Linked DNA regions of Homo sapiens: region 2 is linked to region 1. Evidence: fine-mapped expression QTL. Tissue or cell type: whole blood. Region 1 holds a variant in brackets; the other region holds the start of a gene. All regions are shown on one strand. Distances are from middle to middle.

Region 1 (2,500 bases):
TTTTCTCATCTCCTAAAATCTTATTTTCCTTGGGAAATTGAAAACAGACATAACCTCTCATCCAGTCCAGGGTGACAAGCCCAAGCTGAGGACATCGGCTCTGTGGAGACCAGAACGATTTAAAGTCTCCTAGGTTGATAAGACACTATGCCTTCTAGCCTCACTAATAAGAAATGTGTGACTTATTCATGCTCATGGGTACTAAGACAGATTACCCATACATACAAGGAAAATAAACACCACAGCCCTTGAACTGAGTGGATAAAGAAAGCCAGAGCATTTAATAAATCTGATAAAACTTAAAAATAAATCCATAAAATAAGCAAAACCCATTAATGACGCATTCACATAAAACTAACGGAACATGCCATTCATAAAATGTAATATTCTTCACTCCTTTTTAATTTCCTGCAATAAGGCTTTGGCACTACCACTTAAACCAACATCATCCCTCTACTTGTTTAAATACAAAAGTGCTCTCTGGTTTATGTTTCTCAGTTGACTATTCCCAAACATTTTTAATACTACTTTATTATTAAGATCTACTGACAGTTAATTTACATTCCCAGATGAAATTAAAAGTTGGTATAAGTCCCAAGAACACAAGGATACATGATCAAACATGTGAACGGGCAGAAATCTACTTTACTTGGAGTTTTTCAGTTAAATACTAATTCATTCAGTTAATAAACACACTCTGAGAAGCAAATATGGGCAGAGAACGGTCTACAAAATTCTCAGCAATACATGTCATTCATTTAACAATAATTATTGTACGCCTCCTCTAAACCAGGCGTTAGGGGATCAACAGTGAACACAACAGCCTCTGGTTCTTATGAAGTTTACATTCCAGGGAGAAGAAACAATCAAGTAAAGAAACCAATTACAAATTTCAAATGGTGAAACATGCTATTAAGAAAAATGATGTGATAAAGAATAAATAGAATACCTAGGAACTTCTTAAATGCTAACAGGGTTACTAAGGAAAAAAGACCTATCAATGTCAAACTTTATAGATGAACTAGGCAATGTATGTAGTGGCAGTGGCAGGAATAAGAATAGAGGTCAAAAAGAAGTGTAAAAATGTGACAGGAATAAAGAAAAAGAAAGCAACAAGGGCTAAAAAAGTGGAAAAAAGAGAAGTGGATGTGTAACAAGTAAGGGCCCACTGTGCCCATCACTCAGAGCTCCCTTCCAAGAGAAAGATGGGTTTTAATTTTTGCTATTGTTTTTAGATCCATGGGCTTAATTTATCAGTTCAAACCATACTAGAAATCACCTATTCTTCCACACTATTTGATACAAAATA[AATAG/G]AGGTTTTAAAACCCGAATAAGCAGGTAAAATATAACTGCTTTTCTTTTTTTTCCTTTTTCTTTTCTTTTTTTTTTTTTTTGAGAAAGGGTCTTGCTCTGTCGTCTGGGCTGGAGTGCAGTGGTGCGATCACAGCACACTGCAGCCTCAACCTCTAGGCTCAAGAGATCCTCCCACCTCAGCCTCCCAAGTAGCTGGTACCATAGGCGTATGCCACCACACCCAGCTAATATATATATTTTTTGCTGCAATGGGTCTAACTATGTTGCCCAGGCTGGTCTCGACCTCTTGGGCTCAAGTGATCCTCCCACCTTAGACTCCCAAAGTGCTGGGATTATAGGCATGAGCCACTGTGCCTGGCCTAGAACTGCTTTTCTTAAGATAGTAATGGGGGCAAGGGTATTTATAAATAAATGCCTCTTCCTACAGGACAAAATCATATGATAATTTTCTATTAAGATATTATTCAAGCCTCAGGGTGAAAAGATCCTTGAAGATTACTTTTTTAAAGGACCACTGCCTAAAGTACAGGCTTAAGAAAGCTATTTAACTCAGCTATACAACACCTATGCTAAACACGAGTGATTATAATAGTCATCGTACAGCAAACAGGTGGGAAAATAACCCTGGTGAACCCTGGAAGCAAAACACTTTAGGTATAAGACAACCAAACAGAGAAGGACTCACAGAAGTTGCTGTGCATTCACCATGGCTTCCCTTCAGTCTTTGCCAAGCCAGAGTATGAAATTATCAAGATGGACCAGGTGTGGTGGCTCATGCCTGTAATCCTGGCACGTTGGGAGGCCAAGGTAGGTGGATCGTTTGGACCCTGAGTTCAAGACCAGCCTGGGCAACATGGTGAAACCCCATCTCTACAAAAAATACAAAAGTTAGATGGGTATGGTGGTGCGTACCCACAGTCCCAGCTACTCAGGAGGCTGAGGTGGGAGGATCACCTGAGCTCTGGAGGTCAAGGCTGTGGTGAGCTGTGATTGCACCACTGCACTCCAGACTGGGTGACAGAGTGAGACCTTGTCTTAAAAACAACAAAAACCCACAGTGAAATTATCAAGATGGAGCTGAAAGCCTGCATTGGCCTTTTCTTCCTGTCTATGTCTTCCACCAAACCTCTTACCTATCTTATGACAGGCTGCCATTCCCTGAGTCTCCATCTCCATTTTGAAATAC
Region 2 (2,500 bases), 42 kb before region 1:
GGCTGCCCCCTTTGCCGCCGCTTGTAAACGATCAGAATCGCCCCGCCCTGGGAGCGGGCCGGGCAGGTGGCCCGCAGCAGGGCCTGTCGTCCAGCCGGCCTCGCGGGGGTGGAATTCTTAAGAAAACTGAGCCCCCGGAAAGGCTGGCTCTCCCTGCCCCAGACTCAATTCCAGGGAGATGACCCGGGCCAGGCCTCGGGGCCGGCGGGAGGCAGGGGGAGGGTTTGCCGCACCCGGTCTAGGAAACTATTCGTGAACCCCGCTGGGGGAAGGCGAGCCTCCGACACTGGGGGATTGTCTGGATCGGAGGGCGGGGGATCAGGGAGAGGCGCAGACACAGGGCGAGACCCCCACAGAGGGCAGCGCAGAGACAGAGAGAGGGAGAGAAAAGCCAGAGGCAGAGACACAAACGCGGGCAGCCGAACACGGAGGCAGGCGGGGAACGGAAAGAGACGGGCAGACCAGGGGAAAGTGAGCGGCGGAAACGGAGCGACGGAGAGACAGACACACGGACGTGGGGACCGAAGCAGAGGGGGCCGCGGGAGGCGGAAACGTCCAGAGCCGAGAGGCGCGGCGCGGCGAGGCCCGGGCACGGCCGGGGGACATGCGAGCCCGGCCCGCCCGGCCACGCATCTCCCTCCCTCGCTCCCTCTCTCCCCCGGCCGCGGAAACTCCGATCCAGAAACGGAACCCTGGGGCGAGTCTGGGGACGGGCTCCGGACGCGGCGGTGCCCCCCGGCCACCCCGTGCCGCGCCCACGTCCCCAGCGCCGGCGTCCGGAGGCGCCCGCCAGGTCCCCCAGGGCTCCTGAGCTCGGCGGCGGCGCCTCCACCCGGTGCCCGCGGCCGCCGGACGCGCCGGGGGACGCAGCTCCGGGCTGGGGGCGCGGCACTGCCCCCGCGGCCGAAGCCTCTGGAAGCCGGGCGCCCGCGTGCCGACCCGGGCGGGACTTACCGCGCGCGCCCGCCGGTCCTGCGGAGCTGGGTGCGGGGGTCGCGGGCCCGGGCGCCCCAGGAGGCTCGGCGAGGCGGCCGGCAGGGCGGGGGGCGGCCCCGCGACGCTCGGCTGGGCTGCGCTGCGCGCTGTCTGCGGCCCCGGGCGGGCGCGCGGCGCGGGGGAGCGGCTCCGACGTCAGGGTGGCTCCCTCCAAACAGGGCGCGAGGGCGGGGGCAGCGGGGAGGGCCGCGCGCAGAAAGAGCGGGCGGGCGCGCGCGGCCTCTCCCTCCGGGTGCGCAGGAGGGGGCGCCGCGGCGGCAGGGGCCCCGGGCCCTCTCCTGGCCCGCCCGCCCCGGGCTGAGCTTCGGCGCGCTCCGACGGCGTGGTGGGGCGGCCGGGACGCCTGGCCGGCGCCCGAGAGGCAGGGCAGCCCAGCCGGGCGCCCTGGCCCGTTCTTAAGCGCCCTCCCCGGGTTTCTCTGCGCTTCCACTCTCTCCGCCCGACTTTTACCGAGCCTGGGCCGTCAGGCCGTGCCAGGCCTCGGGGTGACAAAGATGGATGTGTCCTTTTTGTGGGCACCGGGCATTGCAGACTTGCCCCGAGAGTGGGGCGCCCCAGCCCGCCGCGTCCCGGCACCAGGAGTCCCCAGTTCTGCGGTGCACCTCATCCCGTCCGCTCCGGCATGCGACCCGGTTCAAGTCCGTGCTGTTGGTAGCCTGGGTTGCTCAGCCTTGCCTAGTGTTATCCTAGTGTCGCTCTCGGCCCCACGCCCTTGGCTTAAGCATCCCGAAAAGCCCCAGGGACTTATTAGGAACTAAAAAGCCAGCAAATGAACTCACTTCTCTGACTCCTGGGAAGAGTGGAGCTCCTGGCCCCAGCTTCCAGCCTCACCTCGGGGGTTCCTATCTAATCAGTGGGCACTTGGGTGGATTGCGGCCGTACCTTCTCTATTCTGTGTGCTTAACAACGGGGTGAGAAAATAACTTTGCTTCTGGAAAGTGGTGGCCCAGGGACACCACTGGGACACGATTGTAGGACTTGGGGATTTTGCTTTACAGCATAGTTACCTGTGTCCATGTGTTTTACCTAGCTTGGCTGGAAACTTCCAGATAGACACAGCCCTGCTTGTCTGACTCATGAGGTTGCCGGGCATCCTGGGTGGCTCCTAGTGGCCTGCTGGGAACTCCCTGGTGTACTCCAGCCTACTCGCACCCTCCACACCCAGCCTGCATCTGCGCCTCCTAGCTGTTGCCTGCGCCCTTCCCTCTGCCCGGAATTCCCTTCCCCTCCTTTCATCTCTGGCAAACATTCTTCCAGCTCCAGATTGGAAAGCCTTCCCAAGACCCTTTGGGAGCATCTCCCTCCTCCAGTGTGATCCTGGAGCACAGGATGAGAACTTCTGTTCATGTCAATTTCCCTCTAGAATAACTGTGTACATCTCTTGGGCAAACATTCTTCCAGCTCCAGATTGGAAAGCCTTCCCAAGACCCTCTGGGAGCATCTCCCTCCTCCAGTGTGATCCTGGAGCACAGGATGAGAACTTCTGTTCATGTCAATTTCCCTC

The links. PIP is the estimated chance that this variant, and not a neighbour inherited with it, causes the effect.
Region 2: NBL1 starts here. The variant in region 1 is fine-mapped to the expression of NBL1 in whole blood (INTERVAL, PIP above 0.99).

The regions. Positions count from the first base shown.
Region 1 is chr1:19,600,471-19,602,970 of GRCh38, reverse strand. The region is part of intron 1 of MICOS10-NBL1 (MICOS10-NBL1 readthrough); the gene reads right to left. The region is part of intron 1 of MICOS10 (mitochondrial contact site and cristae organizing system subunit 10); the gene reads right to left. Among named protein-coding and RNA genes, the nearest start is that of MICOS10-NBL1, 4.7 kb to the right of the region's middle. The variant AATAG/G (reference allele first, on the strand shown) is at 1,310.
Region 2 is chr1:19,642,901-19,645,400 of GRCh38, reverse strand. It overlaps NBL1 (NBL1, DAN family BMP antagonist), which reads right to left and starts at 1,090. Exons shown (of 4, transcript NM_005380.8): 1 at 955-1,090. The region is part of intron 1 of MICOS10-NBL1 (MICOS10-NBL1 readthrough); the gene reads right to left. RefSeq lists a silencer at 1,005-1,344 and an enhancer at 1,243-2,078.